4 separate regions of the Homo sapiens genome follow, and all the other regions are linked to region 3. Evidence: fine-mapped expression QTL. A gene starts in region 3. Each other region holds a variant in brackets. All regions are shown on one strand. Distances are between the middles of the regions.

Region 1 (8,105 bases), 19 kb before region 3:
GGAGAGCTCTCGGCCCCACTCGCCCCAGACCGGCCCTGGGTTTCTCCCGACTGGGCCCTGTACTCTCCTTCCCTTACCTCTCCATCTTCCCAACCCTCCCTGCAAACCACAGCCCACCCAGGTGGCTACATTGGGAGCTGGCTCCAAGCATGACTATGAGGGTAGTGGGGGGAGGAGAGGTGGAATCAAGCCCTGCCCCCTCCCATGTGGCTGTGGGCAGAGCCCTCACCTGAAGTCAGGAGGCTTGAGTTCTGGACCAGACTCACGCTTACCTCGCCGTGGGGCTCTCAGTGAGTTCTGGCCTCTCTGGGATTCTCTTTCCTCCTCTATAAATAAGGAGTTTGAACCAGACTTCCATTAGGGAAGCTTGAAACAGAGCTAAAGTGAGCACAGGGCCAGGCCTCCAACTACTAACAAGGTGGGCCGGGGGGGTATCTGATGTCAGGCCCTGTCTCCCACCCAGGCGCCCCTCTTCCCCCAGCCCCTGCTCCATGAGGGGAAACGAGGACCAAGAACCTGCTGTTAGCATTCATGGACTTCTGCCATGCAGGGAGGAAGCTCATGCACAACCCCACACCCTGAAAGGGCCAGAAAGAGCCCAGGATCTTGTTCTGGTCTGACTGTCCAGGGCTGTAATGTGTAGCTTTGAGTAAAAACCATCTTCACTCTTGGCCTCAGGTTGTGGGGAAGAGAATCATGTGCATGTGCAGGTGTAAACACTCGAGACATTTCTCCCCTGCCAGCTTCCCAGAACTGGAGGAGGAGATGGGGACATGGGTCCTCCCTTGACTTTCAGAAATGCAGGCACCCAGGGCAGGGTGTGGAGGTATCTAGAGATGGTCAGACCTGGGGCTGCTGCTTCTCTGCCCCTGCATTGACTTTTGGAGAACCCCATCTGCGGCCTGCCTCGACCTGTGTTCACAAGTAACAACAGTGGCTAACAGTTACTGAATGCTTACCACGGGCCTGGTGCTGGTCTATGCACTTAACAGGTCTTAACTCATTTAATTTATAGGTAAACCTTGATAACAGGTCTTAACTCATTTAATTTATAGGTAAACATTGAGACAGTCCCAAGGCTTAGCATCCCCACTTTACAGACAATTTGAGGCTCAGAGAGGGGCAGGGACTCACCTGGGGTCACAGTCTTAAATCACTGGGAGGGCTGGTTAAAAGCCAGGTCTGAGGGCAATCCTGGCTTCTATTTGCTACCCCAAGGTAGTCCTTCTCGGAGTATACATTAGACACTAAATAAATGTTTGATGAAGATGTTTGACTACTGCCATGTAATGGAAAGATCCCTGTCGTAGTCCAGTTCTACCCCAACTCCTTGTGTGTCCTTAATAGAGTCCTTTTCTGGCCGGGCGTGGTGACTCATGCCCATAATCCCAGCACTTTGGGAGGCCGCGAATGGATCACCTGAGGTCAGGAGTTTGAGACCAGCCTGGCCAACATGGTGAAACCGTGTCTCTACTAAAAATACAAAAAATTAGCCAGGCATGGTAGTGGGCACCTGTAATCCCAGCTACTTGGCAGGCTGAGGCAGGAGAATTGCTTAAACCCAGGAGGCGGAGGTTGCAGTGAGCCAAGATCGCACCCTTGCACTCCAGCCTGGGCAACAAGAGTGAAATTCCGTCTCAAAAAAAAAAAAAGAGGTCCTTTTCCTTCTTTAGCCTCAGTTTCTCTGGCTGAAAAACAGAAATGATAAGTGAAGGCCCAGATAATTAAATGCTTGGAGGTGAATCCAAGATCCACCTCCAGATAATTCCATTGAATTATCTTGGATACCTTTTTGTTGTTGTGTTTTGTTTTGTTTTGTTTTGTTTTGAGACGGAGTTTCGTTCTTGTTGCCCAGGCTGGAGTGCAATGGCACCATCTCGGCCCACGACAACCTCCGCCTCCTGGGTTCAAGCGATTCTTCTGCCTCAGCCTCCCGAGTAGCTGGGACTACCGGCATACACCACCACACCTGGCTAATTTTTTTTTTTTTTTTTTTTTTTTTTGAGACAGAGTCTTACTCTGTCAGCCAGGCTGGAGTACAGTGGCGCCATCTCGGCTCACCGCAAGCTCCGTCTCCCGGGTTCACGCCATTCTCCTGCCCCAGCCTCCCGAGTAGCTGGGACTACAGGTGCCCGCCACAACGCCCGGTTAATTTTTTTTTTTGTATTTTTAGTAGAGATGGAGTTTCTCCACTTTGGTCAGGCTGATCTCAACCCCCAACCTCAGGTGATCCGCTCGCCTCAGCCTCCCAAAGTGCTGAGATTACAGGCGTGAGCCACCGTGCCTGGCCTATCTGGGATATCTTGAAGGATCTTGGATTTCTATTTCTACATATACCTGCCTTTCATGACTTGCCTGGGGAGGCCCAATCTGTAATGAGACCTCAGGGTCTCCCAGCCCTTCCCCCAACCTACCCCCAAAACCTCTAAGAGCACTCTAGAGAGAATCAGCTGCATACAGCCCAGCTCCACCGCTCCAAGGGTCAGAGAAAAGTCCCCTTCCCTGGGGTTAGCTGCATGATCCTGCAGGTGCCATGGTGTGCCTAGGTGCCACCTCGCTTCACCTGGCTGGGGAGTGGCTCCTAGACCTCAGCTCAATGCGCATCACTTCCCCTTCTCATCAGCCAGGCCAGCCCAGGTATCACCTCCAGCTCCACTGCCCCCAGATGGAGTTACCTGAGTACCCAATTCCTCCCAAGCTCAGAAACAGTGTCCACTGCCTTCCCACTCCTTTCCATTCAGAGTCTGTCCCCTTAGTGCTGCCCCCTCATCTGTCACACCTGGGTTCTTTCCCTTACTTGGGCCACTGACCTGAGAAGCAGGGTCTGTACAGCTCCAGCAACACTCTCCTCTTCCTCCAGAATTCTCCAGATCCTCCTCAGCTTCTTGGCTCTGGTGCTCATCTCAACACAGCAGGGTCTTCCTCCATCAGGCCAAGGTGGGGGTAGGAGAAGAATTGGGAACAGGGACTCCCCTAGGTTCTCAGGGTACAGTCAGTCAATCTAAGCCTGTATCCAACAAAGACACTGACCCCTGGGGTACAAGGAAGGGCTCCAGGCCCAAAGGCAGGAGGATTAGGCTTTAGCTCTTGCTCACAGCCTGCTGAGACCTGGGGCAAGCCCCTGTCCCTCTTTGGGCCCTCAGGTTTGCAATTTGCAGAATGAGGAAATGGGTTCCTCAATCTACAATCACCTGACTATAATAATATTTTGCCTTTATATACCGCGTGGGTAAATTCCTGAAAGTAAACTAAGCTGTTTTCACCCCTGGATCTCATTTGATCCTCCCAACAGCCTGTTTGCATTTACAAATGAGAAAGCTCAGTTCCCTAAGGGAACAAAATTACCCAAAGTCACACAGCAAGCTGGAAGCAGAGCCTGGGTGCAGTCCTTGAATCCTGATCCTTCCCTGGTCCTTTACTCTCTATGATGCTGGAAATCTGCCTGACTTCCTCTAACCTGTTGTCCCATTTGTAAAAGGACTGTTGTGAGGACTGAATTAGGAGAGGCGATGAAGAGGGTCATTCCTTGTGAATCATAAAAGAAAGGACCACAGAACGATGACTGGACCGTTAGGTTACTATTTATTACGGTTATCTTCGCTCAGGCGCCCCCACGTGTCGATCCCGAGACTCTCGGCTTGCGCAGGCGCTCTTTGGTGTTTACAGCGGCCGCGAAGCCCCGCGTTTGCGCGTGCGCTTCCCGCCCGGGACCGCCCAGAGGTCCCGGACTAGGGGCGGACTAGGGGCCGCTCTGCCTCCCGCCCCCTAGTGGTTGTGGCCGCTCTGTCACCACGGCTCCCGGGGC[C/T]TCTGTCGGCTCCACTTTGGTTGAGACGTCTCCACAGCCCAACAACGGCGGCGATCTGAGGAGAGGCAGGAGAAAATACGGCGCGCTCGGCATCGTCCTTCTGACCGGGGACTCCAGCATCTCAGTCATCGCGTCACCAAGCCCCACGTGCAGGTTCTGGCATCCATCATGGCAAACTGGAGACCGCGGTGAATTCCACCGGAATGGCGCGCGCATTGCCACATGGGAACTGTAGTTCTTGGCTAGGACCTTTCTGGGGCTGGGCCGCTGGAAAAACTACATTTCTCAGGAGCTCAAGAGTCAGGCTGACAGAAAGGGGGCCCGCGGCATGTTGGGAGATGGAGTTTGGGGGGTTCGTGCTAGCAGGGAAACAGTGAAGCAATGGAGCCAAGTGTTCTGAGCCTGGGCCTGTGGGTTTGAGTTGGGCAGGAGTTACACAGTAGCTCTTATAAGAGAGGAGTAGCATTGTTGCGGCTTTTAGAAAGAATGCTACTTATTAGTTGTGTGATCTGAGCGATCAAGACAAATGCCCCTTTATCTTTTTTATTTATTTATTTTTTGAGACAGGGTCTCTGTCTGTCAGGCTGGAGTGCAGTGGCCCCAGAACTGCTGGCCTCCCGCCTCACCCTCCCAAAGTGCTGGGATTATAGGCGTGAGCCATCAGGCCTGGCCAGATGCCTTTTTATCAACTACGATGGACCTTAAGGTTAAGGTTAAGGAAACAAACGTTGCCTACCTCAGGGCTCAGCTGTCAGCTGGCATGGCAACTTCTTAAATTTCTACTGCTGCCAGAAAAACCACACTCTTACTAAACCCCTAGCAATAGGAGCTATCATGCAAATTGTCAGACTCTTCTTTACTGAGATTTACAACTCAGACCACTACAACGCTGATCGACAGAGGACAGGCCTTACAAACATTCTTTCCTGATAAGTAACTGCAGACCTCAGGCCAGTTTCAGCAAGCTCATAGAGACTGCACGCAAACTGTGTTTGTGTCCTATAGTCCACCTTATGATGCAAAGAACCAAATTCCACCTCACTTTAACGCAAAAACCCCATCCCAAAGTGAACATGGAACATATGTTACAGGTGTTTACCCATTGTGCATGCACTCACATCCCCTCATAAATATGTATAGCTTTTCCCCAAAACCTGCTGAATATGTATGATTATTGTGAAATACAGACCCTGTGAGTCATAAACCAGCCTAGGCCGGGAGTGGTGGCTCACGCCTGTAATCCCAGCACTTTGGGAGGCCAAGACGGGCGGATCACGAGGTCAGAAGATTGAGACCATCCTGGCTAACATGGTGAAACCCCGTCTCTACTAAAAATACAAAAAAATTAGCTGGGTGTGGTGGCGGGCGCCTGTAGTCCCAGCTACTCGGGAGGCTGAGGCAGGAGAATGGCATGAACCTGGGAGGTGGAGGTTGCAGTGAGCCGAGATCGCACCACTGCATTCCAGCCTGGGCGACTGAGCGAGACTCCGTCTCAAAAAACAAAAACAAAAAACAACCAGCCTGCCTTTTCCCTATACAAAGAGAGAGCACCTTTGGTACCTACAGGAGAGTGTCTCTTTTCAGTTTGCAAACTGATGTCGCTAATGAAACTGCCCTCTACTATTTAGGCATCCTGGTGTTCTAGAGGGTAGCAGTCTGCACCTCTCACAGGGCTTCCTCTTCCATCACTCCTCAGAGACTGTATTCACAGGGGTCACCTGTGTGTGAGATGCAGTTTGTCTTTTTTGGGGGGAGGGCAGGGGCTGTTCGTTTGTGGTTTTTTTTTTGTTTTTTGTTTTTTTTTTTGAGACGGAGACTTGCTCTGTCATCTAGGCTGGAGTGCAGTGGCATGATCTGGGGCTCACTGCCAGCTCCGCCTCCCGGGTTCATGCCATTCTCCTGCCTCAGCCTCCTGAGTAGCTGGGTCTACAGGCACCCGCCACCACGCCGGGCTAATTTTTTTTTTTGTATTTTTTTAGTAGAGATGGGGTTTCACCGTGTTAGCCAGGATGGTCTCGATCTCCTGACCGTGTGATCCGCCCACCTCGGCCTCCCAAAGTGCTGGGATTACAGGTGTGAGCCACTGTGCCCGGCCTTGTTTTTGTTTTTTTGAGACAGGGTCTCATTCTGTCACCCAGGCTGGAGGCAAGACCATTGTTCACTGCAGCCTGGACCTCCTGGGCTCAATCTATTCTCCCACCTCAACCTCCTGAGTAGCTGTGTTTATAGGCACACACCACTACACCTGGCTAATTTTTTTTTAATTCTCACTTTAATTATGTTTTGCCTTTTTTTTTTTTTTTTTTAGATGGAGTCTTATTCTGTCACCCTGGCTGGAGTGCAGTGGCTCACTGCAACGATCTTGGCTCACTGCAACCTCCGCCTGCCAGGTTCAAGGGATTCTTCTACTTCAGCCTCCCAAGTAGCTGAGATTACAGGCGCACACCAACACGCCCAGCTAATTTTTTTTTTTTTTTTGAGAAGGAGTCTTGCTCTGTCGCTCAGGCTGGAGTGCAGTGTCGTGATCTTGGCTCACTGCAACCTCTGCCTCCTGGGTTCAAGAGATTCTCCCGCCTCAGCCTCCTGAGTAGCTGGGATTACAGGTGCTCACCACCATGCCCAGCAATTTTTTTTTTTGTATTTTTTTAGAGACGAGGTTTCACGCTGTTGGTCAGGCTGGTCACGAACTCCCGATCTCATGATCCACCCACCTCGGCCTCCCAAAGTGCTGGGATTACAGGCGTGAGCCATCATGCCTGGCCTAATTTTTGTATTTTTAGTAGAGATGGGGTTTCACCATGGTGGCCAGGCTGGTCTCAAACTCCTGACCTCAGGTGATCCCCCTGCCTTGGCCTCCCAAAGTGCTGGAATTGCAGGTGTGAGCCACCGCGCCCAGCCTAATTTTTTGTGATTTTTGTAGAGACAGGGTTACGCCATGTTGCCCAGGCTGGTCTCAAACTCTTGAGTTCAAGGGATCCTCCTGCCTTGCCTCCCAAAGTGCTGGGATTACAGGCGTGAACCACCCCACCTGGTCTCAAACTCCTCTTTGGAAAAAAAGTATGGGCCACAGATTCTACTGTGGCTGTTGTCTCTTTCCCAGGTTTGTCCTCAACCATGGTAAAATAAATCTCTAAACTGATAGAGACCTGTCTCAGGTACTTTTTGGTTTACAAAATTGTATTAATAGGCCGGGTGCAGTGGCTCACGCTTGTAATCCCAACACTTTCAGAGGCCAAGGCATGGGGATCACTCGAGGCCAGGAGTTCGAGACCAGCCTGGCCAACATGGCGAAAACTTGTCTCTACCAAAAATACAAAAATTAGTCAGGCATGGTGGTGCACACCTGTAATCCCAGCTACTTAGGAGGCTGAGGCAGGAGAATCGCTTGAGCCTGGGAGGTGGAGGTTGCAGTGAGCCGAGATTGTGCCACTGCACTCTGCACTCTGGCCTGGGCAACAGAGTGAGACTCTGTCTCAAAAAAAAAAACAATTTTTTAAAAATTATATGAATAAGAATGAGGCCGGGTGCTGTGGCTCATGCCTGTAATCCCAGCACTTTGGGGAGGCTGAGATGGGCAGGTCACTCGAGGTCAGGAGTTCGAGACCAGCCTGGCCAACATAGCGAAACCCTGTCTCTACTAAAAATACAAAAATTAGCTGGGCATGGTGACACGTGCCTATAGTCCCAGCTACTCGAGGCTGAGGCAGGAGAACTGCTTGAACCCGGGAGACAGAGGTTGCAGTGAGCTGAGATCATGCCACTGTACTCCAGCCTTGGTGACAGAGTGAAACTCCAGCTCAAAAAAAAAAAAAAAAAAGAAAAAGAAAAAGAAAAACACTTGCTTGGAAGATCTAAGTCACTAAATAGACAGGGTTTATAATGCAGGTACAGAGATCCAGGTAAGGAAGTTTTGAACACAATATTCTACATCTATCTTATTTTTTCCAAAGAAACAGGACTGTAGGTCCTGTGGCAGTCCAGAACTGATGCCAGCCCCTTTATACACAGTTCTGCTTTGCTTTGAGCCTATCAAAATATTGCTTCATTTAAATTTCACCTCATCTCCACCCCCTCCCAAACCCTGTAAAACTATCTTCCTTTGTGCTTAGTGGGACACTCCTTGGTTTCTCCAGTGTGCTGTCTGTCTCATTACAAGGGGACAAGAAACCTGACTTCATCAAACCATGGGTTTGTTCCTTGGTGGTCTTGGCTGATTGGGCTAGGACAGCCTGAAATACTGGTGTCCTCCAGGTCTGCCACAGACCCTCTCTTTACTCTGCACACTTTTTTGGGATGACCT
Region 2 (8,105 bases), 130 kb after region 3:
ATTATGTTGGATGTCAGTTTGCTTAGTATAAAATATAGACTCCCAACTCTATTAATATATTACTTATTATTACTTTATCATTAACTGTTTTGTTCTTGTATTGATCTATTTTTTCTTTTAACTCATCACTGGTCAGAAGAGTTGTTTAAACAACATGAAATAAAAATGTTCAATTTGTTAGTAAGCAAAAAATTAAAAATTAAGATTTCTTTACCTTCATCCAGATTGTTGCTCATATATGTACGTTTGTTTAAATATAAAATACAGTTTTGACAAGGGTGCAAGGATAGGCACTTTCATACACTGCTTTCAGAAGTATATACTGATATAATCTTTTCAGAGGGCAATCAGCTAGCCAAATGAAAAGTATTAACCAATCTTTGTTTTTGACCAGGGAATGTAGCTTCAAAAAAAGATATCTTAAGGAAGTTATCAAAGAGGTGTATTAAGATTGTAAAAAAGAACCTTCACTAAAAAGCATTAAAAAAGTTTATAAAAGCATAAAAAAGTAATAAAGTTAATGGCATATTAATATGATCAAATACTATGCAGTCATTAAAATCACATTTTCAAGTAACATGTAAAGGCAGTGATACAGTTTGAATGTTTTGTCCCCTCAAAATCTCATGTCGAAATGTGATCTCCAATGTTGGAGGTGGGCCTAGCAGGGGGTGTCTGTGTCATGGCAGCAGATCCCTCATGAATGACTTGCTGCTGTCCTCACAGTAATGAGAGCGTTCTCACTCTATAAGTTCACACTAGAGCTGGCTGTTTAAAAGAGCCTGGCAGCTCCCTCCTCTCTTGCTCCATCTCTCACCATATGACATGCAGGCTTCCACTTTGCCTTCTGCCATGATTGTAAGTTTCCTGAGGCCTCACCAGAAGCAGATGCCAGCAGCATGCTCCCTGTACAGTCTGCAGGACTGTGAGCCAAAATAAACCTCTTTTCTTTATATTACCCAGCCTTGTGTATTTCTTTAAACCAATGTAAATGGGCTAACACAGGCAGGAATAGCTCAGAATGTATTTTATGTGAAAAAATAAAAGGACTTACGTGTATAACAATTTTGAAACATGTATATGTAATACATGCCTAGGAAAGATTAGAAGGATATGCCAAGATGACAGTAAGAGTGGTTTACTGTTACAATGTGAAGTTATTTTAATTTATCTTTAGGTTTTCTGTACTTTTCAAATTTTCTTCTGGTACTTTGGTAATCAAATGGAAAATACATACTTTATTAAAATTAAAAAGTATTGACAAACATGCTATAGAATGTTATGGTATATGCTATGCTATTCATTTTATTTTATTTTTATTATGGCTCTCCTAGAGGATGTGAAGTCATATCTCACTGTTTTGTTTTTAGACACAGGGTCTCGCTCTATCACCCAGGCTGGAGTGCAGTGGTATGATCATAGTTCGCAGCTTCAAACTCTTGGACTTCAGAATCCTCCCACCTCAGGCTTCCAAGTAGTTAGGACTACAGGTGCATACTTCCCAAAGTGCTGGGATTATAGGTGTGAGCCACCATGCCTGGCTAAATCACAAATTCATTAATACTGACTTTTTCTTTTGAGACAGAGTTTTGCTCTTGTTGCTCACGCTGGAGTGCAATGGTGCGATCTTGGCTCACTACAACCTCCGCCTCCCGGGTTCAAGTGATTCTCCTTCCTTGGCCTCCTGAGTAGCTAGGATTACAGGCGCGTGCCACCATGCCCAGCTAATTTTTTGTATTTTTATTAGAAATGGGGTTTCCCCATGTTAGCCAGGCTGGTCTCGAACTCCTGACCTCATGTGATCTGCCCACCTCTACCTCCCAAAGTGCTGGGATTACAGGCATGACCTACTTTGCCCAGCCCTGACTTTTATATTTACTATCTACATTTAACACTTACTTCAACTTCAACCTACTTAATTCAACTATAGTTAGGATTAACTGAGGACTACTGAATAGAATTCCAAGATGTCTGATGGAGAGGTTTGAGTAGGAAAGGATTAGTGAGACACTGAATCAGGAAAAAGACAGCACAGAACAATATGGATTATGGGAAAACAGTAAATGTGAACTTCATATTACCTTGGTTATTTATTAATAGCTTTAATGAAAGGGAAGGAAATTGAAGAGAATGACAGGTGAGACGGAGATGAAGGGCACAGAAATGGAAGTGAGAATTCCCTGGGTCAGTCTATTTGACTTTTGAACATATATGTTTCAGTGTTTTACATATTTAAAATATAAAATTATATTGGCTGTTTTGTTCACTGAGGCACTCAGAATGATACCTCACACTTAGTATTTATTCAAGAAATACTTGCTGAATAAGATACATAAACATTGTATTTTGATATTTTATTAGTTCATTAACTACAAGAAGTTTCAGTTAGCACATCTATAATTAAATATTTGTTCTAAGGCATGTTCAAATATTGTAAACTACTACACTAAGAACGTATGAAGATAAACTGACTATTAAATACTCAGACTTTAATCATTATTCATTGTGATGCTGCCAACTTTAACTTCTATTGCATGACATGGAGGTAAAACAACACAATTACTTCTAAAACTATTCCAATGAATAGAAAAAGAGGGAATCCTCCCTAACTCATTTTATGAGGCCAGCATCATCCTGATACCAAAGCCTGGCAGAGACACAACAAAAAAAGAGAATTTTAAAACAATATCCCTGATGAACATCGATGCAAAAATCCTCAATAAAATACTGGCAAACTGAATCGAGCAGCACATCAAAAAGCTTATCCACCATGATCAAGTGGGCTTCATCCCTGGGATGCAAGGCTGGTTCAACATACTCAAATCAATAAACATAATCCAGCATATAAACAGAACCAACGACAAAAACCATATGATTATCTCAATAGATGCAGAAAAGGCCTTTGACAAAATTCAACAACGCTTCATTCTAAAAACTCTCAATAAATTAGGTATTGATGGGACGTATCTCAAAATAATAAGAACTATCTATGACAAACTCACAGCCAATATCATACTGAATGGGCAAAAACTGGAAGCATTCCCTTTGAAAACTGGCACAAGACAGGGATGCCC[T/C]CTCTCACCACTCCTATTCAACATAGTGTTGGAAGTTCTGGCCAGGGCAATCAGGCAGGAGAAGGAAATAAAGAGTATTTAATTAGGAAAAGAGGAAGTCAAATTGTCCCTGTTTGTAGATGACATGATTGTATATCTAGAAAACCCCATTGTCTCAGCTCAAAATCTCCTTAAGCTGATAGGCAACTTCAGCAAAGTCTCAGGATACAAAATCGATGTGCAAAAATCACAAGCATTCTTATATACCAATAACAGACAAACAGAGAGCCAAATCATGAGTGAACTCCCATTCACGACTGCCTCAAAGAGAATAAAATACCTAGGAATCCAACTTACAAGGGATGTGAAGGACCTCTTCAAGGAGAACTACAAACCACTGCTCAATGAAATAAAAAAGGATACAAACAAATGGAAGAACATTCCATGCTCACGGGTAGGAAGAATCAATATCGTGAAAATGGCCATACTGCCCAAGGTAAATTATAGATTCAATGCCATCCTCATCAAGCTACCAATGACTTTCTCACAGAATTGGAAAAAACTACTTTAAAATTCATATGGGACCAAAAAAGAGCCTGCATTGCCAAGTCAATCCTAAGCCAAAAGAACAAAGCTGGAGGCATCACACTACCTGACTTCAAACTATACTACAAGGCTACAGTAACCAAACAGCATGGTACTGGTACCAAAACAGAGATATAGACCAATGGAACAGAACAGAGCCCTCAGAAATAATGCCGCATATCTACAACTATCTGATCTTTGACAAACCTGACAAAAACAAGAAATGGGGAAACGATTCCCTATTTAATAAATGGTGCTGGGAATACTGGCTAGCCATATGTAGAAAGCTGAAACTGGATCCCTTCCTTACACCTTATACAAAAATTAATTCAAGATGGGTTAAAGACTTAAATGTTAGATCTAAAACCATAAAAACCCTAGAATAAAAGCTAGGCAATACCATTCAGGACATAGGCATGGGCAAGGACTTCATGTCTAAAACACCAAAAGCAATGGCAACAAAAGCCAAAATTGACAAATGGGATCTAATTAAACTAAAGAGCTTCTGCACAGCAAAAGGAACTACCATCAGAGTGAACAGGCAACCTACAGAATGGGAGAATATTTTTGCAATCTACTCATCTGACAAAGGGCTAATATCTAGAATCTACAATGAACTCAAACAAATTTACAAGAAAAAAACAACCCCATCAAAAAGTGGGCAAAGGATATGAACAGACACTTCTCAAAAGAAGACATTTATGCAGCCAAACGATACATGAAAAAATGCTCATCATCAATGGACATCAGAGAAATGCAAATCAAAACCACAATGAGATACCATCTCACACCAGTTAGAATGGCGATCATTAGAAAGTCAGGAAACAACTGGTGCTGGAGGGGATGTGGAGAAATAGGAACACTTTTACACTGTTGGTGGGACTGTAAACTAGTTCAACCATTGTGGAAGTCAGTGTGGCGATTCCTCAGGGATCTAGAACTAGAAATACCATTTGACCCAGCCATTCCATTACCGAGTATATACTCAAAGGATTATAAATCATGCTGCTATAAAGACACATGCATACATATGTTTATTGTGGCACTATTCAAAATAGGAAAGACTTGGAACCAACCCAAATGTCCAACAATGATAGACTGGATTAAGAAAATGTGGCACATATACACCATGGAATACTATGCAGCCATAAAAAATGATGAGTTCATGTCCTTTGTAAGGACATGGATGAAGCTGGAAACCATCATTCTCAGCAGACTATCGCAAGGACAAAAAACCAAACACCACATGTTCTCACTCATAGGTGGGAATTGAACAATGAGAACACATGGACATAGGAAGGGGAACATCACACACCAGGGCCTGTTGTGGGGTGGGGGAGGGGGGAGGGATAGCATTTGGAGATATACCTAATGTTAAATGATGAGTTACTGGGTGCAGCACACCAACATGGCACATGTATACATATGTAACTAACCTGCACGTTGTGCACACGTACCCTAAAACTTAAAGTATAATTTAAAAAAAACTAGACAATTACATGGTCAATAATTACAATGCTCAAAATGTCAATACCTGCCAATATCCTCTAATGCAAGTCTGTAAAATAGGTATTGTGGAAGTATCTAGCATATTTTACCTTTAAAATACGATGGTATAAACAGAGTAATAGCTACCATTTACAGAATATCTATTATATTCTAGGAGCTTTGTGCAGTAACTCTACTTTTTACAACCACCTTTAAGGTAGACAACATTTTCATTTTACAGAGCAGGAAACTGAGTCCCAAGATGTTAAGTATAATGCCTAGGGAAATTTTTCAAGCTTAAGTAAACATTCATATTCACAAGACTACTCACAAGGATGTAGGACAAAAATGACTGCCTGCCAACAAGGCAGCACCAGGTGCCCCTCTTTGTGGGACTAGTCTTTGCAGCCATCTATGCAATAGCTCACCCAGCTACCCAAGAGCTATTCTCCTTGTGTCCCAGCCTGCTTTCCCAGGCCCCAGGTGAGATTCAGGTCCAAGAAAATGAGACTCACATCACTGGGTCTGGGAGTCACTCTGGTTTAACAGCTGCATGCCCCATGGGGCCAACATCTCTTAACAACAATGCTGTAGGTACGAAGCATTTTCCAATATATCTTATTTCTTAGTTAAGGGCTTTAAACCAAGTGGAAGACCTAGGTTTTATGTTCAAATTTATTTAAACTTCCCCTGGGTAAGAAATGCTGTGTGTCACAAGAGAAGTTTGAACTCTTCTTATCCAGACTCACACTCAGGCCCACATCTGGCCAAGAGGAGCAGAACTGAAGAGGTTTTCCCACAACAATGGTTGATCTACAAAAATCCACTTATGCTCTCCCATGTAGTGTCCCCTCTGACTTGTGATACACACTTACAAGTTGTCTGACTAGAACTAAAGCCAAAGTCAGTGTTTACTTGACTCACATAGGAATTGACCACAAGATCTTATTCTAAGCAATGAACTAATCAACCAGAGTCACTGAGTCTAGCAAGAAATGGGTATATTATAATGAAAGATTAATAGCCACACCACTATATTGCTGGTCCTAATGGACGTGTAGGAACTCCCATCCTCCAGCACATTCTGTTGGAACAGCCCTTACTTTAAATCTCCCAAAAGTTAGTTCATAGATTTCTGATTATAAATTACAGTGTGATAAAATCATTAGTTAAAAAAAATATTGAAAACATAATTTTCTCATAAAGAAAATTAAATACAGAAAAATCCAAAGAAAACAAAAATCACAGGTAATCTCACATAAATATGGGAACATTAACTTATAAAACAGACTTTAAAAACAAATTCAAGACTATATTTTACATATTATTTATGATTCTCATTTTAATCAGTTAATACAGTGTTAACATTTTTCATGGCACTATAATGGTATAATCTTATACAACATAATTTTTATGACATCGTTTGGGTATCATACATTTTTTGTTTGTCTGTTTTGTTTTGTTTTTTTGAGACAAAGTCTCACTCTGTCACCCAGGCTGGAGTGCAGTGGTGCGATCTCGGCTCACTGCAACCTCCACCTCTGGGTTTCAAGTAATTCTTCTGTCTCAGCCTCCTGAGTAGCTGGGATTACAGGCATGTGCCACCAGACCTGGCAAATTTTTGTATTTTTAGTAGAGATGGGGTTTTGCCATGTTGGCCAGGCTGGTCTTGAACTCCTGGACTCAAGCAATCCACCCACCTCAGCCTCCCAAAATGCTGGGATTACAAGCGTGAGCCACTGTGCCCAGCCACTGGATATCATAAATTATTGGCTGCTTATTATGAAACATTTCAATTACTTCAAAATTACTGAATGTTTCATTTTTCAACATTTTAGTTGCTTTCCATTTTTAATCTCATTGTCATCATCAAGCATGTAGACAAATATCATAATAGATATTTATTATATCCTTAGAATAAATTCTTACAACATAATTTCTGAGACAAAGAATATAGTTTATTTTAAAGCATTTGATACATATTACCAATTAAGTCCTCCAAAACAACTGTATCAATTTACATTATCAATAATAGAATATGAGTGTATTAACAAAATTTTAACTTACCATTTTAATGGATACAATTAAGATTAACATTGTCATAATTTTCATTTCTTTTTTTTTTTTGAGAGGCAGTCTCGCTCTGTCGCCCAGGCTGGAGTGCAGTGGCACAATCTCGGCTCACTGCAAGCTCCATCTCCCAGGTTCACAACATTCTCCTGCCTCAGTCTCCCGAGTAGCTGGGACTACAGGTGCCCGCCACTACGCCTGGCTAATTTTTTATATTTTTAGTAGAGATGGGGTTTCACCACGTTAGCTAGGATGGTCTGGATCTCCTGACCTCGTGATCTGCCCACCTCGGCCTCCCAAAGTGCTGGGATTACAGGCATGAGCCACAGCACCCAGCATAATTTTCATTTCTTTGATTACTGGTGGGATGCTAGATTTTCACAGTCACTAGTCTTATTTTTTATTGAGATATTAGTCACACACCATTAAGTTAATCATTTTAAAGTATACAATGCAGTGGCTTTTAGTATATTCACAAAGTTGTGCAACCATCACCATTACCTAATTCCAGAACATTTTTATCACCACAAAAAGAAACCTGGCCGGGCGTGGTGGCTCACGCCTGTAATCCCAGCACTTTGGGAGGCCCATGGCGGGCAGATCACCTGAGGTCAGGAGTTCAAGGCCAGCCTGACCAACATGGTGAAACCCTGTCTCTACTAAAAACACAAAAATTAGCTGGGCGTGGTGGTGGGTGCCTGTAATCACAGCTACTCAGGAGGCTGAGACAGGAGAATCACTTGAACCCTGGAGGCAGAGGTTACAGTGAGCCGAGATCATGCCACTGCACTCTAGCCTGGGCACCAAAGAGCAAAACTCCATCTCAAAGAAAGAAAGAAAAGAAAAGAAAGGAAAGAAAAAGAAAAGAAAAGAAAAGAAAAGAAAACTTTATAGCCATTAAGTAGTCAG
Region 3 (8,105 bases):
CCAACAGTCATGGGCAATATTAGAAATCACTGTACTGCCAGGTGCGGTGGCTCACGCCTGTAATCCTAGCACTTTGGGAGGCTGAGGCGAGCAGATTGCCTGAGCTCAGGAGTTTGAGACCAGCCTGGGCAACGTGGTGAAACCCTGTCTCTACTAAAATACAAAAAATTAGCCAGGTGTGGCAGCGTGTGCCTGTAGTCCCAGCTACTCGGGAGGCTGAGGCAGGAGAATTGCTTGAATCTGGGAGGCGGAGGTTGCAGTGAGCCCAGATTGCCAAGATCATGCCACTGCACTCCAGACTGGGAGACAGAGCGAGACTCCATCTCTGGAAGAAAAAAAAAAAAAAAGAAATCACTGTAACCACAGACCAGCCTGTCCTATCCTGATCAATATGAAGGTGTGAGGCAAACAGGCTCACTTTTGTACTATTTCAATTCTTTGCTATGTGCATGTGATTGGTTTTCCAATTTAAAAAATAGCTACTTTTTTTTTTTTTAAACTGAGTCTTGCTCTTTCGCCCAGGCTGGAGTGCAATGGCACGATCTCAGCTCACTGCCACTTCTGCCTCCCAGGTTCAAGTGATTCTCCCCGCTCAGCCTCCCAAGCAGCTAGGATTATAGGCACCTGCCACCACTCCCGGCTAATTTTTGTATTTTTAGTAGAGACGTGGTTTCACTATGTCGGCCAGGCTGGTCTCGAACTCCTGACTTCAGGTGATCCACCGCCTCGGACTCCCAAAGTGCTGGGATTACAGGCGTGAGCCACTATACCCAGCCAAAAAATAGCTACATTTTTTATTTCAAAACTTCTAAGCACTGGACCATGCAAACTTTGGTTTTTTCTTTTTGATACACAGCAACAGCAATTTATTTACGGATTACCTACTCAGTTGGTGCCAAGCCTGGTTCTAGATGCTGAAGACAGAGCCTAGATCAAGATTGACTTGGTCCTGGCTTTCCTGAAGTTCCCAGCCTGGTAGAAGAGACATAATAAACAACTAGCAAACACAGAAATGTGATTCTTTCTGGGAGTATTAGGTGCTCTGAAAGGAAGAACAAGGGTGATGTGATAGACGCTGATTGGGATGGGAGCTTTTTCAGATTGGATGACAGGAAAGGTCTTCTGAAATCTGCCTGGTATGTAGGAGCTAGCCTCTAAAAGTTGTGGAGGAAGAGCACTAGGAGAGGGGTGCAGCCAGGGCAAAGCCTCCAAGGTGGGGCTAAGCTTGGCAGTGGGATTTCAGTGCAGTGAATAAGGCTAAAGAGTAGGAAGAGGTAAGATCAGTGATGTGGGCAGGGGCCAGATCAAGCAGGGCCTTGAAGGCCATGGTAAAGGGTTTGGTATTTGCTTTGACTATGCTGGAGAGCCTTTCAAGGGTTTTAAGCAAGAGGAACTTGAGATGACTTAAGATTTTTGTTTTTGTTTTTGAGACAGTCTTGTTCTGTTGCTCAGGCTGGAGTGCAGTGGCGCAATCTTGGCTCACTGAAACCTCTGCTTCCTGGGTTCAAGTGATTCTCCTGCCTCAGCCTCCCAAGTAGCTGGGATTACAGGCGTGCGCCACCATGCCTGGATAATTTTTGTATTTTTAGTAGAGACGGGGTTTCTCCATGTTGGTCAGGCTGGTCTCAAAGTCCCGACCTCAGGTGATCTGCCCACCGTGGCCTCCCAAAGTGCTGGGATTACAGGTGTGAGACACCGTGCCTGGCCTGATTTAAGTTTTTGAACAATCACTCTGGCTTCTGGGAGATGCCTAACCCAGGTGCACTTTTTTTTTTTTTTTTTTTTTTTTTTTTGAGATGGAGTCTCGCTCTGTCACCAGGCTGGAGTGCAGTGGTGCGATCTCAGCTCATTGCAACCTCTGCCTCCCGGATTCAAGCAATTCTCTGCCTTAGCCTCCTGAGTAGTTGGGATTACAGACGCCCACCACCAAGCCTGGCTTTTTTTTGGGTATTTTTAGTAGAGATGGGGTTTCACTATGCTGGCCAGGCTGGTCTTGAACTCCTGACCTTGTGATCCACCTGCCTTGGCCTCCCAAAGTGCTGGGATTACAGGTGTGAGCCACCGTGTCTGGCCTCCCAGGTGCAAATTTTAAATTACATTTTAAGTACTTTAGGGCCAGGTGCAGTAGCTCATGCCTGTAATGCTAGCACTTGGGATGCCAAGGCAGGAGGATTGCTTGAGCCCAGGAATTAGAGACCAGCCTGGGCAACATAGTGAGACCTTGTCTTTACAAGAAAAATTTAAAATGAGCTGGGCGGCTGGGCACGGTGACTCACACCTGTAGTCCCAGCACTTTGGGAGGCTTGAGGCGGGTGGATCACTTGAGGTCAGGAGCTGGAGATCAGCCTGGCCAACATGGTGAAACCCTGTCTCTACTAAAAGTACAAAAATTAGCTGGGTGTGGTGACGCATGCCTGTAATCCCACCTATTCGGAAGGCGGATGCATGAGAATCGCTTGAACCCGGGAGGAGGCGGTTGCAATGAACCGAGATTGTGCCACTGCACTCCAGCCTGGGTAACAGAGACTCTGTCTCAAAAAACAAAACAAAACAAAACAACAACAAAACCAGCGATAGTGGCATGTGCCTGTAGTCTCAGCTACTCGGGAGACTGAGGTGGAAGAATCATTTAATCCCAGGAGGATGAGGCTGCAGTGAGCCATGATTGGGCCACTGCACTCCAGCCTGGGCAACAGAGAGAGACCCTGTCTCAAAAACAAAACAGAACAAAAAAAGTGAAGTACTTTAGGTCCCCAGATTATGGTATAACATTTTTTTATATTTATTGGTCAAATCATATATCTCTTACATAAATAATTTGAGATACATTAAACAGCAAGTTAAATGTAAAAAGCAGAAATTTGTCTCCATATATTATCTAAAATTTTATTTCAAGTGATCTTTATAATACAATCTTTCATATTCTAAAAATAGAACATGAATATTTTTAGTCAAAATCAATCACTTCTTTATCATATACTACTCAAAAATGACTATTTATTTAACATTTCCTAGGTGTATTTTGTGAGTCAAAAAAGGATTAGGAAACCCCTGCCCCAATATGGCTCCTTACCTGAGAGAAACGGCATCTCTGCACCTCACAGCCAGGCCAAGCCCTGTTAATATACTCTCCCATGCACACAGCCAGAGTTCCTTATTTATATAGTGTCTCCAAGCACCCAAGAGTCCGCCAGTTCTAAAGGGAATTCATCACTGTCATCAGCTGGCCCTGGGTCTCCATGGGTACTGTGCCTGTCTCCTGGGCATGGCTTTTGCTGAACGTTACCACCCATCTTCAACACAAATACTCCTTCAAGAGACAGGTCAGGCCTGGTTTGGGGCTAGAGGTACAGAGACATCTAGGACCCAGGTCCTGCCCTAAGGGGCACCGCACAGATTACAGGATGGTGTGATAACTGGTGACGGTTATAACTCGAACTCAACTGGGGCTGGTGTCTGAGAAGCTTGAACTCAGTGTAGGGGCAGGAAAGTTCTCCTGGAGGAGGTGATGCATGATTAGGAGCCAGGCCCCCTAGAGGCGACGATGTTCCAAACATCAGGCTCGGCCTGTGCAAAGGCCATGGGCGTCTAAGACAATGACATGTGGGGGACTGAGCCCAGCTCACTGGAAGCAGAGCAGGCTACACTGACCTGGGGGCGTCTAGGCCTTCACTGCTTTCTACGTCCTCTGACCCATCCCCATCAGAATCTCAACAGACTCGTCACCTCCAGGGCCTGCACTGCTCTCCCATCGTTGCCCAACTTCTCTCGTTCCCTAGGGATGTTCAAGTCTGCCAACACTCAGAGGGCAGGGCCTGCTGGCATGCCCCAGGGTGAGGCTGTGCCCAGCGAGTCCCTCCTTTCGTGTCTCACAGTAGCCTGAGCCTGCAGAGCTGGCTCTCTAGCATCTAGCTAGAGACGGTTTGACCACAGTTCCCTGCGACCCATGATTCACTTTCGAGGGTACCCACAAGAGATGTGTCTGCTCCTCCAGACGCCGCCCAATGGGGTGAAGCGTCTGGCCCTGAGTCAGGATGCTGGGGTGCTGGCCGTCTCAGCTACCCACTCCTTTGCAACCCCAGGCAAGCAAGCTCGTTCTCTCCTCCCGGCCAGGGGCTTTCTAGATGAAATCAGCTGCACCCCTTTACTCTCAGGGACCTAAAATTTCGGCGACCATGTGGAGCCGTAAACCCTTCTGCCTCCTGTCCTCCCAGCCCCGCACCCACCTGGCGTTTTCGTGTCACGGAACCTCTGCACGTGCTCTTCTCGAGGCCTAGAGTCCCTCTCTCCCTCTGGCCAACTCCTATTTCATCCCTCACAGACCCAACTCGAACGCCATCATCCCCGGAAAGCGGGGATTCCTCCCTTCAGTCTCTGCTTCCTTATCTTGCTGTCCTGCTGCGCCGCGCCCTCAGTGTACGCGCAGAGCCCGGGGCTGAGGGCCTCTGGGTCCCTGGCTGGGTGCGCGGCCAGGAGCGCGACGGCCTGGGAAGCACCAGCGGCTCTCGAACTCGGCCCGGGCGCGGCGGGGTTAAGACACCCGGGCCTTGAGGGCCCCGCCTCCGGAGCGCTCCACCCGCGTGGGGGAAGCCTCCCCGGAGGCTCCGACCTCGCTCCTGCTTATGACCCTCGCAGCCACAGGAGCCCCCACTTAGGTGAACATTTCGGACGGGGCCCCGGCGGTTCAGACCCGGAGGCGGCTCCTCCCGGAGGCAGATCCTCCCGGCGTCGGCCTTCGGTCCTCCCCGCCAAAGCCCTCTTGGGACAAGCCGGGGATTCCCCGCCGCCGCCCGCCCCCTGGCGTCACGGAGTCCCCGCGAGGCCCCGCCCCGGCCTGGCGCCGTCCTGGGCGGGAGGAACGCGCCGCTAGGCGGGAGAGCGCGGCCATGGCGGGGCCGGGCGTCCCCGGTGCCCCCGCAGCGCGCTGGAAACGCCACATCGTGCGGCAGCTGCGGCTTCGGGACCGTACGCAAAAGGCGCTTTTCCTGGAGCTGGTGCCGGCCTGTGAGTGCGCCCCGGTGCTGAGAGGATGGCGGCTGAGGGGACGCGGCTACGGGCGCGGGGAGAGGGTTTGGCTGGCTCCTCCGCCTGTGACCCGAGTGCGCTGTGCCTTATGCCTTGAGCCTGTGCGTTACGCCCATCCCGACTGCCAGGACTCCGCCCCTTGCCATCCAGGCTCTGGTTAGAACCTGGACGAGCCCCTCCTGGTCCCCCTGCCCTCGTCGCCCCTCAGGACGGGCTCTGCCTCCCACAAGCTGGGCTTCCGAGACGCAAGTGCGTCCTCGGGTGTTGGTTTTGCAGGGTCTCTTTTGCCTCCCCACCCGGGCAGTCCCCGGGGTAGGGGCTTGATCAGTGCACTTAGTCTCGGTAGCGCAGTGAAAGAACGCGGGACTTGTCCAGAGCAGCCACTTATTGGCCCATCCGGAGAGGGGCGACACTCGGAACCTCTAAGGAGGAGGCTGTGCATCTCAGGCTCTGCCGCTGACAGGCGACGCTGGCACAGGCTTATGGAACACCTCCCTGTCAGCCTACCCAGCCTGAGGGGGCATCAGGGGGCCCCGGGCTGCTGGTGGATGCTGGCTGAGCCCAGCGAAGTCGGACTCTCAGAATTGTTTCTGGGCAGCTGGTCAGGATAGGGTGTGGCATTTCAAGAGGGGATGAACAGGTGTGCCTGTGTGTCGCACCTCTGGCCGCCTGCGATTGTATGTCTGTGGTTGGAAGTCTAACCACAATCCCTGCGGCTCTCTCACTGGGGCTAATCTTGGCCAAACCCCCACAATCAAATCTGCTCTTAGCCAGGAAAATTTCTCTGCAAGCTTCCAGGCTGCTGGTCCTCTACCTTCAGGGTTGCGAGGCCAGCCCCCACCTCCAGCAGCCACACTTCTCCACTGCTCAGACAGACAGTGGAACCGTCCAGTTTGAGGGAGGGGGTCACCGCCCCCCCAACCCCTGCCCCCCGCCCCGACCCAGGGAGCTGTGAGTCTGAGGGACTAGAGAGATCTGGAGGGCTGAAATCAGACTGAAGGGCCAGTCTTGAAACCTTGGGCAGATCACATCGCTAAGCCTCAGTCTTCTTACTTGTTAATTGGGTATAGAGACCTTCTTTAGGTTTGCTGGGTGCTGCAGTACCCTGGGGGCTGAGGTGGGGTTTTCATGAGAACTAGGCCAGGCCCAGGGCCTCAGTCAAGGTGACAGGGCACTGAGTGTGGGAAGGAAGTTGATGAGGAGGGAGCTAGGCCCGGACTTACCACCCCACCCTCCCCTGGAACTGGTGAGAAAAGAGGAAGTGACTGTTGATGGGGGAGGGTGTTCCAGGGTCAAACCACCAACCTCCAGAATGTCGGCTGGATAATTGCTCAAGGACTTTCTATTCTGGCCTGGGGGTACCTTACACCAGGGCTGGGGAAGTTGGGATTATTTATTTATTTATTTATTTGAGATGGAGTCTTTGCTCTGTTGCCCAGGCTGGAGTGCAGTGGTGTGATCTCCGCTCACTGCAAGCTCTGCCTCCCAAGTTCACGCCTGTCTCCCGTCTCAGCCTCCCGAGTAGCTGGGACTACAGGCGCCTGCCACCACGCCTGGCTAATTTTTTGTATTTTTTAGTAGAGATGGGGGTTTCACCGTGTTAGCCAGGATGGTCTCGATCTCCTGACCTCGTGATCCGCCCGCCTCGGCCTCCCAGAGCGCTGGGAATTCAGGTGTGAGCCACCGCGCCCGGCTGGGGATTATTTTTAAGTGCAGAAAGCTAGAGCCCTTGGAGGGGAAGTGACTTGCCAAAGGCCATTGACAGGTAGAGCTCGGTTTATTTCATCACTTTCTGGGGCTAAGCCTTGCTCTGAGGCAGGGATGAATCAATCCCAGGCCCCTTCCTTCCCTCAGGACCCTCAGCGGGCAGTACCCCGCAGTGGTCATCCTTCTGTCCCTGGGAGAGCAGGTCCTCTTCCACGTGGGCCTGGGGACCGGTGCTATGAGGACACTGCTAGGGCTGAAGGTCCTGTAGAACTGCACAGATGCCCCTCAGGCACAGGGCAGAGGCCAGCCTGCCAGAAGCTTCCCCATCCCTAGCATCTCTGGGCTCCTTCAGCCCTTTTAGCCGGAGATAAATTGCATGCCAGGGGGCTGCTGGGTATCTGTCTCTGCCCCAGGCTCACTCTCTTGCACTCTCCAGATAACCATCTCTTAGAGAAGGCTGAGCTGCTGGACAAGTTCTCAAAGAAGCTGCAGCCGGAGCCAAACAGTGTCACTCCCACCACCCACCAGGGCCCCTGGTAAGTGTATGTGGGTCCGTGGTCACAAAGGGCTGCCTGTGCTGGGGCCCTGCCCCTGCTGCCTGTGCTGGGTTCATTCTCTCCCTAGTGCCTCATCAGCCCTTGGCTGCTGCCCAGGGGTGGTGGGGGTGGTGGAGGTGGTGGGGGTGGTGGGGGAGGCAGGCCCTTGGCCTTCCCACAGGACAGCTGTTTAGAATCTCTTTCCCCTCCACCTTTCTTTGTCCATCTCTCTGCATTTGTCCCATCTCCTTCCCGTCCCACCCCTATACTTATGTCTTTTCCCTTTCTCAGTCTTTTTCCATTTCCCTGTTCCTTGCCTGATGCCTAAAGAAAGGGTCTTGCTACCTGTTGCAAAGAGGGAGTAAAGATGAGAACCAGGAATAGGTTGGGGCTCAGAGTTGGGAGGTGCTTTGCTTTTTTTTTTTTGAGACGGAGTCTGGCTCTGTCACCCAGGCTGGAGTGCAGTGGCGTGATCTCAGCTCACTGCAACCTCTGCCTCCTGGGTTCAAGCAATTCTCCTGCCTCAGCCTCCTGGAACGTGCACCACCACCCCCGGCTAATATTTGTATTTTTAGTAGAGACGGGGTTTCACCATGTTGGCCAGGATGGTCTCGATCTCTTGATCTTGTGATCCTTCCACCTCGGCCTCCCAAAGTGCTGGGATCACAGGTGTGAGCCACCACGCCTGACTGGGAGGTGCTTCTTGAGAAGGGTCCTTGGCCAAGGCCTAGGGGAATCTTAGAGCAGAGGAGTCATGGACAGCTCATTTCTAGAGACTTGCCTTTTCCTTTACTGGCTTGCTGGCTTCCATCTTCCCAGGACGAAGTTAATGGCTCT
Region 4 (8,105 bases), 220 kb after region 3:
CACACACACATTGACGCACACCTCCAGAAATACTATTCAGCCTTAAAAAAAAGGGAGATCCTGCTATTTGTCACAACATGTATGAATCTGGATGGGTTCATCCAGAATATGTTAAGTGAAATAAGCCAGATAGAAAGAAGACGACTACTATTTGATCTGTTATATATGGAATCTAAAAAAATAAAAAAACTTGAATAAATAGAGAATAAAGGCCGGGCACGGTGGCTCACATCTGTAATTCTAGCACTTTAGGAGGCTGAGGCAGGTGGATTGCTAGAGCCAAGTTTGAGACCAGCCTGGGCAACATAACGAAACCCTGTCTCTATCAAAAATTATAAAAATTAGCCTGGTGTGGTGGTGTGTGCCTGTAGTCCCAGCTACTCGGGAGGCTGAGGTGGGAGGATCACTTGAGGGCGGGAGGTGGAGGCTGCATTGAGTTGTGACTACTGCACTCCAGCCTGGGTGACAGAACAAGACCCTGTCTCCGAAAAAAAAAGAGAGACAGAGAGAGAATAAAGCAGTGGTTACCAGGAACGGGGAGGGAGACAGTAATGCCAACATTTGTACTGGGTGTTACACTTACAAAGTATTTGTATATGCATTATGTTGTTCGATCTTCACTTAAACTGAATGTAGTAAGTATCCTATTAGAATCTGACCAACAAAGGACCATATTAACCAACACTGCTTATACCCAGGAATCCAACCCAAGCCTTCTGACTCCAAGGCCAGTCCACACTCCCGTTATTCTATTTCTCACCATTGATATGAACTGATACATTACAGGTAACCAACACAAATCAGGTAAGAGCTGGCACAGCAGCCTTTTCGCCTGGAAAAGGCATATGCATTGCTTAACAAGTTTTATTAAGTGCTTTCTATAGGGAAGGCACTGTATTAGATGCTGGGGGAATAGCAATAAACATTATGGGTATTATCAATGTTCTTCTGGTATGTATATTCTGCCAGGGATTAATTTAAAAAATTAATATCCACCAAGAGGAACTATTAACTAAATTATGGTCATCAGTATGCTGCAATGTTACACAATTATTAAAGAGAATGTGCTATATAGTCTCAAATATTTAATAAAAATATATAAGCTGCAGAAAAATGAATAGCACGGTCCTATTTTAATTTAAAAAACATGTAAGCATATATACTCTAGAATACATATGAACTTGGAAATGAGGTTCAAAAGTAAGAGCTTTTAGTTTTTATTCTTTATACCACTGGATTGTTCAATGTTTTTTTATTTTAAGAGATGGGGTCTCACTCTGTTGCCCGGGCTGGAGTACAACAGCACAATCATTGTTCACTGCAGCCTCAAATACCTGGGCTTAAGCGATCTTCCCACCTCGGCTTCCCAAGAAACTAATATTACAGGTGTGCATTGCCTGGTTAATTTTTTTAATTTTTTTATAGAGACAGGGTCTCACTTTATTGCCAAGGTTGGTCTCAAACTCCTGGCCTTAAGTGATTCTCCCGACTTGGCATCCCAAGGTGCTAGGATTACAGGTGTGAGCCACCATGCTTGGCCTATTTCTATCACTTAATTGCTCAGTATTTTTAAAGCAAATGTTTATTACCTTCCTAACTGAAAAAAAAAAAGCACAACAAAGAGGAAAAACTCAAGAAGTCACCATTTGGTGTAGGTATTACAACAGGAAAGTATATGGGAACATAAAGCAGAGAGATCGAGTCAGGGAAGGCTTCCCCAAAGGAAATGAAAATTGACATCTAAAAAAAAAGAGCCTGTAACGAGAGGTGGGGTGCAAGTGGGAACATAGCCCCTTCAAGAAACTTCATACAAGCTGGCATGGAGCTTGTAAAAGGGAGAATGGCTTAAAGGTGAGACTGAATAAGTAAGGGCTATATCACACAAGGATTTATGTTTGGACTACCTTAAGACAACAGGAAATCAAGCTTGCGAGCAGTGCAGTGCCATTATCAGACTAAAATGTGATTTAAAAATCATTCTAGCTGCAGTGTGGGAAACATGGATTAAGAGTACTTAGATTGGCCGGGTGCGGTGGCTCACACCTGTAATCCCAGCACTTTGGGGGGCTGAGGCATGCGGATCATGAGGTCAGGAGATCGAGACCATCCTGGCTAACATGGTGAAACCCCGTCTCTACTAAAAATATAAAAAATTAGCTGGGCATGGTGGCGGGCACCTGTAGTTCCAGCTACTCGGGAGGCTGAGGCAGGAGAATGGCATAAACCCGGGAGGCGGAGGTTGCAGTGAGCTGAGATCGCGCCACTGCACTCCAGCCTGGGCAACAGAGCGAGATTCCGACTCAAAAAAAAAAAAAAAGTAGTTAGACTACAGTCAGGGAGACCCATAGGAGGCTACCACTCTAGTCCTGTCCAAAGATGATATGCACAGTATGGAGGCAAAGAGATGTAAATGGGACAAGTTTTAGTGCAAAGAATTTTAGAATTATGAACAGAAGAGACAGAAACAGGTAATCTCTAAGGTCTCCGCTTATAAACATACTCTGACCCCTCACATTTTAGATCTACTAGATGTAGCACAGAAATGGAGGAATTATAGGGCGCTACACAAGACATCTTCCACAAGAATATTCCTCTAACATTAAAAGATATGAAGCAACTACAAGCATATCCACACTCCCAAACCAGGATAAAACTATGTTAATTAAATACTCAAACTATGGAATTCTATACAAATTTATATAATTTATGGTTATTGGCAATAGTAAAAAGACCAGGACTTTGAAGTCAACACTTGAGTTTGAGTACTGTACTGCCTTTGCTGTGAATTAGTTATGAGTATTCTTGGATAAGACACCAAGCTAACTAGGTTAAGTAGGTTTTTTCCCACATCCCAGTTAACAACTAGTATACTGTATTTACCTATTTGATGACGTGACTTGAAGTTGAAACATGATGGTAAACAACGCTTATGACACAGAAACATTCAATAATGTTGTTTTAAAGAAATTTTATTTATCATGTTATTACGAATAGAAATCATGAAAATATAATAGACAATTTTAATACCGATAGCAAATATATCATCTTTTTTTAAGAGTTGCTTTTTTCTTTCTAAAGTTTTTCTTTTTTAAAAAATTATTTTTATTATACTTTAAGTTCTGGGATACATGTGCAGAATGTGGAGGTTTGTTACATATGTATACATGTGCCGTGGTGGTTTGCTGCACCCATCCACCCATCATCTAGGTTTTAAGCCCTACATGCATTAGGTATTTGTCCTAATGCTCTCCCTCCCCTTTAAGGTTTTTCTTTAAATATATTTACAGATACGTTAAAGTGGAATTTTTTAAAAGCCTTTTAAGACCAAGTGCTCACACCTACTTCAAAACATGAAGCTAGAAATTCTCATGTAGCCTGTCTGATTTGACTTTGGTAGCACACAAACATGCAAAAACGTTCCTCTTCCTGAAAGAAGCAATTTCCAGCTGTCTAACCTAAAACACAAATGATTACACACCAGAAACTGTTACTAATGTTAAAATTCGGTACCAGAGGCTGAGCCTGTACCAAGGAAATAGAGATCAAAGTTTCCACTCTTGTGAAAACATCTCAAGTTAGGAACCACATCAATAAAACACAATACTCAGAACTCAGCAAATTTATACTCATAGTAAAGAAAAAGTCAGTCAAAGTAAGCTTTAACTCTTGATACTACATCGCCTACATTGTTGAAGTTTCCCAATTTTTTTCAACTTCAATAAACTTATTTGCACAAAATGACCTGCAAATTTTAAAGTAAAAGTAAATAGAGCATTGCAATTTACTTATTAAGGATCAGGTGAATTTTGACCAGAACTTCGAAGCAGCAAAAGAAAATAAATTATAGAAGGACTAAAAGTCAAAAGAACCAAGACTGTCAATCTGTCTGTCAACAACACAACTGAAAATCCTCTGGGTGCAAAGTAGTACCTTTAAAAAGGTCACTCCACAGGCAGCTAAAGTACTATAGGATAAATGTCACCTGCTGAGTCAGACTCTAGAGGTGGGGCTGAGACACTGATAGTTTAACAAACTTCACAGGTGATTCTGATATGCAGCCACTATTGGGAACAACTAGTATACTGGTTAAGAGCACAGACACACATTCTCAGGTTTAACTCCTGGACCTTGACAAGTTATTTAACTTGTTTTTAGTTTTTATTTTTATGTATGTATGTATGTATGTATGTATGTATGTATGTATGTATGTATGTATGTACGTACTAAGACAAGGTCTCGCTCTGTCACCCAGGTTGGAGCGCAGTGGCGCGATCTTGGCTCACTTGCAACCTCCACACCCACCAGGCTCAAGAGAGTAGCTGGCACTACAGGCACGCACCACTACTCCTGGCTTGTATTTTTTGTAGAGACGGGGGTCTCATCATGTTGCCCGGCTGTTCTCGAACTCCTAAGCTCAAGCAATCCACCCACCTTTGGCCTCCCGAAGTGCTGGGATTACAGGCATGAGCCACTGCGCCTGGCCATTAACTTGTTTTTATCTTGGATGTCCTCATCTCAGAAATAAAGATAGTTATAGTACCTACTTCATTGTTGCTAAGCAAATGAGTCAGTGTTTATAAAGCACTTGGCCCAATGTATGGCATACATTAAGTGCTTAATACCTTCATCTATTCAATAAGTACTTACTGAGAATTTTCTACAATATGCCAAATGCTATTTTAAGTACTGAACAGTACTGAAATGTTCA[GTTTT/G]TATTTATTTATTTATTTATTTATTTATTTATTTATTTATTTGAGATGGAGTCTCGCTCTGTCACCAGGCTGGAGTACAGTGGCGCGATCTTGGCTCACTGCAACCTCTGCCTCCCAGATTCAAGCAATTCTCCTGCCTCAGCCTCCCGAGTAGCTGAGACTACAGGCGTGCACCACCACACCCAGCTAATTTTTGTATTTTTAATAGAGACAGGGTTTCACCATGTTGGCCAAGATGGTCTCAATCTCTTGACCTTGTGATCCGCCTACCTCAGCCTCCCAAAGTGCTGGGATTACAAGCGTGAGCCACCACTCCTCGCCCAGTTTTTATTAATGTTGTTAAAACAAGAATGATCAAATATTTAAGCAAACTTCTTACTTTTAGTTGAAAAAACTAAAGGCTAAGAGTAGACTGGCTTGGACAGGGCTCAAAGTGAACCAGTAGTAAAACTGGGATTAGAACATGGGTCATTTGACTTCCAAGCTTCCCAGTGGAGTTGACCTGTGGGCAGGTTTTAAAGGAAGAAAAATATACAATTAGAAACATTAAAGTATTGGAGCCAACATAATAATTTTGAAATGTGTGAAGGGTAAGAAACAACCAAAGAAGTATAGGAAATAAAAGACAAAAAAAAAAAACCCAAGCTTCATAATCACTATTTTGTACAATATTTCACAACGTTATATCGGTCTTTGGAGTCAAATAAATGTGGGTTCAAATCCAAGCTCTACTATTTATTTATAAATTGACACTGAAAATAATTTCATTAGTCACTTTGAGCTTTAGTTTCCTCAACTGTAAAATGGGCATAATAATGAAACCTAAATTTAATGATGAGTACAATGACTAGCATACTGCAAGTCCCTGATAAATTATAATCATGATTACTGTGATTAAAAACTTTCAATGTCATTATTAAATGTAGAATCAAGTCTATAAATTTTAGTTCTACTTTGGGTATCTTACTGAGTCCAATGAGTAATAGGTAATTTTATTTGTGTATTTATTCATCCGTGTAACAAAGCCTAACTTCTACTATATACAAGGTACTAACATTTCAACCCTCAAGAAGTCTTCCTCCACAAATATTGTGTTCACTCATAATTTTTTCCTCAAACTTTTTATTGATAAAATTTTAAAAACTGAGTACAATTTTCTGTAATACACATATTCTGCTTAATTGAAATTCAAAGTTAGTGTTCCCTACCATCAAAATCCATTACAAACGTTCATCTGTTAACGCGGATCTGTAATTAGATTTTAAATATTTCATCTTTGCAAATGTCTTCACACAGATAGGGACTGCCAAATACTGATATCAATTCAAGAGCATATGACTTTGAGCATATTCATCACCTGGAAGATATTTATAGAATTCTATTATATTCTTCTCTTGATACTCACATTTTTTAAAAATTACAGACTTCATATTTTTTAGAACAGTTTTAGGTTCATGGCAAAATTGAGAGAAAGGTACAGAGAGTTCCCATGTATCACTTGCCCCCACACATGCATAGCCTCCCCATTAACAACATCCCCCACCACAGTGGTACATTTACAATGGATGAACCTACACTGACACATAACACAGTCATCTGAAGTCCATGGTTTACACTAGGATTCTTAGTGCTGTACAGTCTATGTGTCTGGACAAACATATAGTGACATATCCATCATTACAGTATCATAGGGAGTTATTTTCACTGCCCTAAAAATCCCCTGTGCTCTGCTATTTGTCCCTTCCCCTTCATCCTCAACTTCTGGCAACTACTGATCTTTTTACTATCTCATAATTATGCCCAAAATTATTTTTTGCCTCTGAGTTTTTGATAGCAGCCTTTCTCTGGTATAGAATGCATTCTTTCTCCATATCCACACAATATTCTTGTCGTCTTTAGATATTCTAATCCCACTTACCATGTTTTCCTAAAAACTTAGGGCCCATACTGATTATGTTATGAATGTGGCCATTTAATCATATAAGTCAGATATAGCCCTATTGATAGTATATATTTGTAACTTTTATGCATACCTATCTTACTTTGTCAAATGGGTTTTACATTCTGAATATAGGAGTCCTCATTACCTTGTAACCCTCCAAAAGCAATCACACTTGTTATGCATAGAGCAGAACCTCAAACATAGTGGACAACTTTAGGAAAAGAAGAAGGCAGTTCTCTGGGATATCCAGAGCATAACCTTTTATATCCAATCCCTCACCAATTTCACACTAAAGAGTGGGAAACTTATTTTATTTTTATATGAAATATGTGAAACATAGGGATTACTCTGATGAAAAGATTCACCAAGTCAAGCTTTTTCCACAAACAAGTCTTCTGCTAGATGCTAAAATAGTTTTCCAGCTGAAATATTAAAAACAAAACCATCTATCACTAAAAAATTCTTATGACGAGGTGGGAAGATTGCTTGAGGCCAGGAGTTCAAGCCAAGCCTAGGCAACAAGGAGATCTGTCTCTATTAAAAAATTTAAAAATTAACTGGGCGTGGTAGTGCATGCCTCTAGTCTCAACTACTCAGGAGGCTGAAATGGGAAGATCGCTTGAGCCCAGGAGTTTGAAGCTGCAGTGAGCTATGATTGTGCCACTGCACTCCAGCCTGGGTGACAGAGTAAGACCCTGTCTCTTTAAGAAAAAAAAAAAAAAAGGAAAAGAAATTCTGATGACTGATTGATTCTTAAAGGGACCTTATAATTTATCCAGTCGAATCCTCTCAGATCAAGAAAAATGGGCAGTGACTCAAGATCACTCACCACTGATGGGCACCTGTGGTACATATACAGCGTGGATACTATGCAGCCATGAAAAGAATGAAATCTTGTCCTTTGTAGCAACATGAATGTAGCTGGCAACGATTATCCTAAGCAAACTAACACAGAAACAGAAAACCAAATACCACATGTTCTCATATCTAAGTGGGAGCTAAACATTGAATACAAATGGACATAAACATGGGAATAATAAACACTAGGGAATCCAAGAGCAGGGAGTGAGGCAGGGGCAAGGGTTGAAAAAATAATTAGGCATGCTCACTACCTGGGTGATAGATTCATTCATACTCCAAACCTCGGCATCATGCAATATATTTTTGTAACAAACCTGTACATGTATTCCCCTGATTCTAAAATAAAAGTTGAAAAAAAAGATCTGTCACCAAGTAATAAGGCCAATATCCATATAAATTATGACATGCCTCCCACTTTAGTGTTCTTTTTCCAGTACATTTTTTTGGCTTGACTTCTGTAATGACCCCCAGCCTAGTATTCATAATCTTCTATCAAGTTGTATCAACTTAGTATCTTCCAAGTGTATCTCCTTACTTCTTTCTAATATTACTTAAGTCTCCATAATAATTGCAGAATCACTGTTTATTTT

The links. PIP is the estimated chance that this variant, and not a neighbour inherited with it, causes the effect.
Region 1: its variant is fine-mapped to the expression of ATG16L2 in whole blood (INTERVAL, PIP 0.93).
Region 2: its variant is fine-mapped to the expression of ATG16L2 in blood mononuclear cells (TOPMed, PIP 0.96).
Region 4: its variant is fine-mapped to the expression of ATG16L2 in whole blood (INTERVAL, PIP above 0.99).

What each region holds. Positions count from the first base shown.
Region 1 is chr11:72,790,065-72,798,169 of GRCh38, forward strand. It overlaps STARD10 (StAR related lipid transfer domain containing 10), which reads right to left and starts at 3,983. Exons shown (of 7, transcript NM_006645.3): 1 at 2,811-3,983. RefSeq lists enhancers at 2,108-2,607, 3,739-4,308. The variant C/T (reference allele first, on the strand shown) is at 3,806.
Region 2 is chr11:72,941,431-72,949,535 of GRCh38, forward strand. All of the region lies in intron 8 of FCHSD2 (FCH and double SH3 domains 2), which reads right to left. Among named protein-coding and RNA genes, the nearest start is that of ATG16L2, 130 kb to the left of the region's middle. The variant T/C (reference allele first, on the strand shown) is at 3,075.
Region 3 is chr11:72,809,560-72,817,664 of GRCh38, forward strand. It overlaps ATG16L2 (autophagy related 16 like 2), which reads left to right and starts at 4,852. Exons shown (of 18, transcript NM_033388.2): 1 at 4,852-5,004; 2 at 7,169-7,268. The coding sequence starts at 4,887. It overlaps LOC107984421 (a long non-coding RNA gene), which reads right to left and starts at 4,508. Exons shown (of 3, transcript XR_007062771.1): 1 at 3,074-4,508. RefSeq lists enhancers at 3,115-3,174, 3,335-3,464, 5,475-5,624 and silencers at 4,005-4,094, 4,495-4,944.
Region 4 is chr11:73,030,986-73,039,090 of GRCh38, forward strand. The region is part of intron 3 of FCHSD2 (FCH and double SH3 domains 2); the gene reads right to left. Among named protein-coding and RNA genes, the nearest start is that of FCHSD2, 110 kb to the right of the region's middle. The variant GTTTT/G (reference allele first, on the strand shown) is at 4,709.